Regions from separate parts of the Homo sapiens genome. Here all the other regions are linked to region 3. The links come from fine-mapping of genetic effects on gene expression. A gene starts in region 3. Each other region holds a variant in brackets. All regions are shown on one strand. Distances are from middle to middle.

Evidence for each region. PIP is the estimated chance that this variant, and not a neighbour inherited with it, causes the effect. A credible set is the group of variants that fine-mapping cannot tell apart.
Region 1: its variant is the best candidate, but not a certain one, in a credible set for the expression of SAMD4A-AS1 in whole blood (INTERVAL, PIP 0.58).
Region 2: its variant is the best candidate, but not a certain one, in a credible set for the expression of SAMD4A-AS1 in whole blood (INTERVAL, PIP 0.70).

What each region holds. Positions count from the first base shown.
Region 1 is chr14:54,695,913-54,698,676 of GRCh38, reverse strand. All of the region lies in intron 2 of SAMD4A (sterile alpha motif domain containing 4A), which reads right to left. Among named protein-coding and RNA genes, the nearest start is that of SAMD4A-AS1, 9.4 kb to the right of the region's middle. The variant T/C (reference allele first, on the strand shown) is at 1,218.
Region 2 is chr14:54,690,159-54,692,922 of GRCh38, reverse strand. All of the region lies in intron 2 of SAMD4A (sterile alpha motif domain containing 4A), which reads right to left. Among named protein-coding and RNA genes, the nearest start is that of SAMD4A-AS1, 3.6 kb to the right of the region's middle. The variant C/T (reference allele first, on the strand shown) is at 1,193.
Region 3 is chr14:54,686,283-54,689,046 of GRCh38, reverse strand. SAMD4A-AS1 (SAMD4A antisense RNA 1) reads left to right here and starts at 1,137. Exons shown (of 3, transcript NR_187163.1): 1 at 1,137-1,747. The region is part of intron 2 of SAMD4A (sterile alpha motif domain containing 4A); the gene reads right to left.

The sequences.
Region 1 (2,764 bases), 9.6 kb before region 3:
GGGCTAACTACACCTACTGGATCAAACTATTTCTGCTACTACTCCAGCTGCCACTGCTGAGAGCCAACAGTATTGAATGTTTTCGAAGTGCCAGGCACTCTTCTAAGCCCTGTGCATTTAATTACTCACTTAATCCTCCCAAGAAGCTTATGAGGTAGGTCCTATTACTAGCCTTCTTTTACAGATGAAGGCACAGGGGCACAAATGGGCCAAGTTACTTGCCCCCAGCCCCCTGCTAGTGAAGTGGCAGAATGGAGGTAGGCAAATTTGATATTAGATACATAATGGCTGTCCTGCTACAACAGCGTGGCCATAAGCCAAATATATTGATATTTATAACATAATTAGATGTTCTATAGTTATATGATACAGAATTACATATAAATGCATACAAATATGTAATAGTTATAAACATTATATAAATGTATTAATAGAGTACATGGATAATCACAGTTGGTGAGCAACAGAAGTATAATAAAAAGGAGTTACAGAGACAATGTAAGTTATACCTATTGTGGTTTAAAATATGTTAACTATTTATTTGACACACCTCTTTGAAAGGTGGAGCCTAATTCCCTTCCTTCTGAGTGCAGGTTGGATTCAGTGAGTCACTTTCAGTAAATAGAATGTAGGGGAAATGGCGGTATGTGACTTTATGGATTAGGTTATAAAAGGCATTATGGCCTCCCCTTGCTGTCTCCGAGTACTCACTCTGGGGAAAGCCAGCTGCCATGTTGTGACATCATGCAAGCAACCCAATGGGGAGGTCCTTGTAGTGAGGAACCGAGGCCTCGTGCCAATACCTAGCACCAAGTTGCCAGCCATATGAGGGAACCATCTTGGAAGCAGATCTCCTAGCCCAGATAAGCCTTTGGACAACTGCAGCCCACATACCATTTTGAGGAATCCTAAGCCAGAATCTCTCATATTTCTGACCCACAGAAACTGTGTAACATGTTTATTGTTTTAAGCTGCTAAGTTAATTAATACACTATCCAACTGTCCCTCTAGGTAAAAGGAAGTTTTAGCCACTTGGTTTTGAATACATCAGTCTTTCTGGCAAAGCCATTCCCATTCTGGCATGGACCCATGAAGTTCCCGTTGCCACTAAACATTTCCCTTCCTCAGCGCCCCCGTCCTGATTATCCACTCACAAAACAACCTTTGGACCATGATTTAGCTCCCCAGCTACCCTCAAGGAGAGAATGAACTGATCA[T/C]AGAGACTTGAGGTATTTCCAAAATCTGTGATAATGATTTGTCAGGGCAACTTAATACATAATTTCTGATTATGATTTGGCTTCCTGTGGAGGCCTGCCGACAAGGACAATGTGTGCTGATTATATGGACTTGGAGTACGTCTGGTCTCTCTGATGATGGCTCCTCGTGGCAAATTAACCAGCCAGCATTGCAGTGTCTACCTCCCTGCTTTCTAGTTAGCATGAGTCAGTCTTTCAGGAGAGTATCCCCAGGGTGCTGACAAGCGTGAACATCTCTACCTTCAAACGGAAGCCAGACCCTACATGCAGGGACTTGGTCACACTGGCTAGGTCCTGTCCAACTGCCCACTGGCCTCTGTGGCATCCACACTATCTTCCAGAGAGCAAAGAATCTTTGCTGAGATTTGCATTTGACAAATTCTCCTCCCTGGGGAAGATGCAGGAATCCTCAGAATTTTCAATTAATTGATCACTTCTGAGATCCAGTCTCTACCATTACTCACCCCAATATCACCTGATTCAGGACACAGTGGAAAACTTAAGTGCAAGAACTTCAAGGTTTGATGATGTCAGCTCACCTCTACTATGTTTTCTGAATATTTTCTTTGTTATTTCTCTGTATAAGGAGCAGAGATGTAACAGTTCTATTACATGGATGTTTAATGTGGATAAAAGTTAATGATTTATAATTTGTAAACCAGTGACATAGGAGTAGTAAAAAAAATTAGAAGAGCTATAATTAAAGACCATGAGGATTAGGAAACTGTCCCAATGATTTTTGGAGTGACAAAGAGTGTGTTTAAATACCAAGTCTGGTATTATTGCTACACAATGGTATGTCAATGCTTAAGGGCTCTAGTTGTTAGTAAATTACTCTTAAATTGCTATTTTATTATACCCTTGTTTTCAGTTTAATAACGTTTGCCATAAAAGGGTTTCTCACAAGCGCATTTAGGCAATTTGCTCATGCAAGAAATGGCTAGGAATTAAATGCACACACAGAAGAAGTACTGGTGAAATAAATGTGCTAAAAGGCAGGAATATTGGTGGGTTTTACATGGTCAAAGACTCCTTGGAAGAATGTTACAAAGTCAATCCTAGACACATCATGTACTAAAAGCTTCTAAATATAGTGCAACTCTGCACAACTCAAAAGTGGATAACCACACACACCATGTATTTATTTGTAGAGATATTTTTCAGCCCAGGGCACCTGAAAAATCAGGGCAAAAATACCAACATGGCAAATGGTGGGATTCTTGTGTTGGCACCTGCACTTGAGTTTGTCTCCCAAGGTACCCTCTTGAGCTAGAGGTGACCAGAGAAGAATCCCCATAATTTGGTGGGAGCCCTGCTAGTGGTATGGATTAGACCAGTTGTGATGGGGAACCCAGTCTGGAGTTATGAGCCCTTACAGCTGCAAGTAGTGTTTTGAAAAGGTACAAAGGATTGAAAAGATATAAACCCTCCCCCTATTTTCTTTTTCTTTTTTTTTTTTTTTTTTTTCTGAGATGGAGTCTCACTCCGTCACCAGGCTGGAGCACAGT
Region 2 (2,764 bases), 3.9 kb before region 3:
AACAGGGTTAAGACTGTTATATGTCTGATTTTTTTGCGGGGGGGGGCACTAAGTGATTGTTTCAATAAGGCCTCATAGGAATGGGTCTCCTAAGAGTTATATAAATTAGAGATGAAAAAAATGTTACCTCACTCGACAAACACAAGACACATTCTTGTAAACCACACTCGACTAGTTTTTTACACCAAAAACCCCTCAGAGGAGAGGCTGGAAGTGTTCTAAACACAGGAAGCTTTCCCACTCTCTAATCTTCAGCGCCGCCCTCACACTCCAGACCACCACTGCCAAAACCCCACACACCACAGAGTGACACTCCAATAGTACCTTAAAATAATGAATTAGCAATCCTCATGCTGACCTTGCAAAGGAGAAAAGTGTGCTTTCTGCTTCTACACTTAGATTTAGCCCCTGTTGCACAAGAGGCTCTAGACATGAGAGTCCCAAAAGGAGCACGGCATTGTCCACGTAACCTAACTGCAATAATATTTTACAAAGAACTCCAAGGCCAGCATCCTTGGCAATGTCCAGACAGTCAACAGAGGAGTATCTTGGGAGGAGTATAAACAGACTGAATCACAAAAGAATAGTTCATGCTTAATTCAGTGGAGCAAACGGAACAACAGCCATGCCACACAACAGGTTTATACACCTCAGGAAGTCTGGGAAGGGCTGGAGTGCACACATCCCACCCCTGACACCAGGGAGCCATTCTATATCTTTACATGACTGTGAACTGTGAAGTCACTGGGTCCCACGCTTTCTAAAATAACGAGGAAGTTGCTCAACAACTTATAGACAAAATTTCCCAACTCAAGAGATGGGATCCAAAGTGTAAGTGTGAATGTAAGAGCCCTGTGGTGTGGTGTGTAACCATGTAAATATTGTCACCAAGGAACAGCATGTAGATATTCCCAAAATATGCATGTTAGCAATGTTGATAGTAAAATGTATGTATCACTCATTTAGGTATGAAATATGAAATACACGTACAAGTCATCCAATGGGGGACAGAATGAACAATTTTGTGGAGGCAGGATATTCGAGTCCATAGTCACAAATTAACTGATACTCTTTTTGGAAAGAAAGGCCTGGCTAACTGTACAAGGACAGAGTTGGGTGACCCTGGAACATATTCAGCCTGGCTCTCCTGTCCTCCTGGGGCACAGCCCTGTAGAGGGAGCTAGAGGCACAC[C/T]TCCCTTCCTGCTTCCCCTCCAGCCGCCAGCCAATGCTGGGAATTTCTGCAACAGTAAGCAGTAAAAGGCTGCTGATTTTCACCTGTTACTTGTGCACCAAACTCATTTTCAGGTTAGTAGGTCTATTGATGCAATCAGAATAAGATTTTTCAGATTTTTTTTTTTTTTTTTTTTTTTTTTGAGAAGGGAAGCTACTTTTTCATTGCTGAAGTCCTTGGGCAGTGGGTAAGAAGAAAAGGTAGGAAGGATGATGGTGAAGAATGCACTTCTCTAAATAGGAATGAGAATGGCTGAGGCCATTTCCCTCCTTCTGGGTATCCTGCCATGAAATTGAGTAGACCTAGGGCTCAGTGGCTGGACCAGAATCAGGAGGACTGATCAGATGAGGGCCCTTGGCTTTGGCCACATTGGTGGGGATGCTACAGAAGGAGACAAGACCTCAGAGCTCATAGGGATAATGTCTCCAGACAAGGGCCTCATCCTTCCCAAGTTGCAAGCATGCTGCCATCTAGAATTCTACAACAAAGGCAGGCACAAAAACAGTGAGAGGGCTCAGGCAGGGAAAGGTAAGGGGGAGCAGAAAGGCCCAGTAGGACGGAGAGGAGCAGACGCAGAGGCAGAGTTGAGAACCTTGTCTACAGACCCACACAGCCCAGTGCAGGCAGGCCTGTGGGCTGTGTTGTAAGCACCCTGCACTGCTGAGAAGCTGGAGAGAGGACAAACCTGGCAGGAAGGAGCTCCTTCCTGGAAACAAACCTTCTAAACTCTATGGAGGAAGGCAGAAGGCAGCAAGGGGCCCCTATGTCCAGGGAGTTTGGAAACTAACCATTGTCTGCCCTCCCTCAACTCTACCCCAGGGTCTGAGACACATGGCTCAGTGAGGAGAAAGACAAAGCTAACTTCTAGCCACAATGGTTCTGAGCTGGGAGTGACAGCACTGGCCTACTGTGTTGTTTGAATCTAGCTTCATACCATCACCTTTGGAAGTGGTTGTATTTATTAATCTATCAGATATCTGTCTTTGGTTCCTATCAATGTATATGGCCTAGTGCTAGGATCTGTCCTTTTCAATGACATTTGTGGTATCAGAGATAGCCAAAGGGAAAGTTTTGTACCCATAGAAGTGTCTGTAACACAAATAACTTGGGGAGAATCAGACCAATGGGGTAGAGAAATACTTGGAGAAGGGCTCCATTTCTAGAACCAACAGGCAACACTGTAAGGAGTAGAATCCATCTTCTAAAGTACTCCTAGGCCCTCCAGCCAGGACTCAACACATTATTTGGCAGAAAAAAAAAAAGAGCTTAGTCTATTATCACTATACCAGTGGAGACTTAACCTCTGGCTGTTTGAATCTCAAAAGAGATCACTATTATTTATCATTACATACTCTCTGCTGTAGATATGTCTTGGACACATCTGAACCCTCCCCCTCCTGCTCCTATCATCATCTGTGATGTAGTTTAAGAATCCACCTCTCTCCCCAAATGCCATTTACCCATTTGGGCCCTCATTGCCTTTTCTCTACCACAATTGAGCTCAGTGACTTGCATATCTGTATAACACCCCCC
Region 3 (2,764 bases):
GGCAGAAGAATCGCTTGAACTCGGGAGAAGGAGTTTGCAGTGAGCCAAGATTGTGCCATTGGACTCTAACCTGGAAAACAGGAGCAAAACTCCGCCTCAAAAAAAAAAAAAAAAAGAATTACGACTTCTGGGACCCTCTCTATAGATCTACTGAATCAAAAACTGTGTTTAACCAGCCCCCTGATGATTTTGATCCAGGTTCACATTTGAGAACCCAAGAAAATCATGGCCTCCAATTGATAGCATTTGGAGGATCGAGTAAGGCTGATGTGAAACCAGGTGGGAACCATGATTTCTTACCAGGAGAAAGGCTAGGAGGAAGCAGTTGAAAGAGTGGCAAGGACCTATTTTTAGAGGAAGTTGTTGGATTTTTTTTTAAGTCAACAATAAATAAGCAAAATGTCATAATATTTCTAAGACAGGGCTGATCTCTCAAGTTTTCTATTCATAGCAACCTACCCAGTTAAAAGCAGCAATCGCTGCATCTAAGGATAGACAGGGAAGCCACGATTTGGCCCGTTTGGGTTTGAAGAGTGCCATAAGAATAAACAAAGTCTGGCCAAGCCTGTGCTGGCTCATGAATCAAACGAAGGTGAGAATTTCAGTTTTAAAGCATCTTTACCACAGGCTCACACCCTCACAAACCACCCCCACACAATCCCCAGTTATGTGCTGCTCCAAGGAGGAGAGTTGAGATGAGTCTGCAGAAGCCCAGAGAAGCCTGGGCGTGAGAGCCAGTACGTTACCTCTAAACGGTTGCTCCGGAGAACCGTTTGGTGAAGTTTGGTATCAACTCACTGGTCTGACGATGAACCCACAAGACATGCAGTAACAGGAGCAAAATTCTCTTGATTAGAGGACCATAATATTTTGCTGAGTTTAGGGGTGAGGGCACAGCTGCTGTCCAGGTTATACGGAGCTGAGCACATTACAGTTGAACCAGGTGTTAGGTGAAAAATTTGTGAGTTGATGGAATGATCACATAAGAGATTGCTCCATCTCCTCCCTCTCCACTTTGTCCTTCTCCTTTTCTTCCCTCCTCAGGTGTCCACTGGGCACAGCTCATCATTATTGAGTGTCTGGCTGGGTATTATGATGTCAGAGGCATCAGCCACAGAGGGTGATGCCTGAGAAGGGACAGCAGCCCAGCCCCATTCAGGGACACGTGGCCCTGATTTGAGCTCCTGTGACATCACGCTCCCTCCACTTATCTTACATGTCACATCTCAAACATTTAACATTTTACATCTCAAACATTTCTTGAGGCCCTTACCCTCCCATTCCCCCAAATCAATACGGCACTTAGGGGACACCAAGGCGCAGAGACACTTGCCCCAAATCATGCAGTAATGCCCTGGTGCCACCGTGAACAGTGCTGAAGCTTCCTGACCCCTTGTCCAGGGGACCTGGCTGCCTTTTATAGAAAGTTTCCACACACCTTCTATTCCTAACCTCGATCACAAGCATCGCCGGCCCAGATGCTCTGTGTCACCGGCTTAGTAACATACCCCATTTAGGAGCATGAGCACAACTTGTTTGCAGTGGGAATGAATTAACTGAATTCTAGATATTGTTTTTTGGCTGCCTTTTTTTGTTTGTTTTTATTTCAAACACAGCTAACTAATCAGGGCTGTGGACACCAAGAATGCCAACTTTGATTCTTCAAGGAAAATCAGCAGCTGACCACACACCACCCTTCCTGGTCCTCCCCGAGATGCCAAGAACATCCAAAGTCTGCAGTTTTGAGGTAAGAAGAAATACTTGGTTCATAACTGCCCATGGAGGGGCAGGATCCATCTTTTCTCTTTCTTATTTTGCAAGATGACATTAAGAGGAACAGTGCTGAGAAAATGGAAGATAATCTAAAAAACAAAGGTCATCACTTCTTTATATAATGTTAGAAGTTTTCTGTATGTCTTGACCTTGAGGTCTAAAATGGGTAGAGCCTTTGGAGGAGAAGAGATCAAGCCCCTTGGAGTCAGTCAGGGGAAGGGCAGATGTATAACCCCTATCACAGGGTCAGCTCCATGAATCACTGCACAGATCCCACTGCCAAAATCAAGCCCCGGAAAGCACAAAGATTGGAAGAACTGGCTTATTTATCAAACAACTGATGGGCCAGGGCAGGGAGCAACTCCCAGCCAATAAGGTGACTTGGTTTCTCAAAATGACATAAGTACATTTCAACTGTGTAGTAAATAAAACAAAATTTCATTATAAAAGGGCCCCAACTGTCCCCCATGTGATCTGCCTCTGCTGCCTCCTCATGTGACTGGCCTCCCAATTTAGCGCGTAACCAACTCCCAATGACCTGTAATAACACTATTCCCAAATTAGAGCTCTCAATTTGACTTGGCTTCGGTCCCTCCCTCAAAGCAAAATAAAGCATCCGTTTTCTTTTTTTCACATTCATAATACTCTCCTTTTGAGTTGCCAACTCAAACCCTGTTTCAGTCAGATTGAGCCCTTCCTCTATTTTTTTTTTTTCTGGTTAGCCAAAGAGCCCGATGGAAAAACACCAAGAGACAAAAACAAAAACAAAATCAGACAAAAATTCCAAGTAAGTGACATTCAGCTGGAAAAGCTATGATTCACATGCAAATAAAAATCTCCCTGAATTCACTGTTATATGACGCAAGCCCCTGGCTGCGACATAAAAAGGGCAGAATGAAATCACCCACAATTAAACTTGCTCTGGAATACTGGAATTCTCTGGCTAGGCCTTCCCGACTAATGATAAGAAAACCCCCAACTGTAGCAGAAT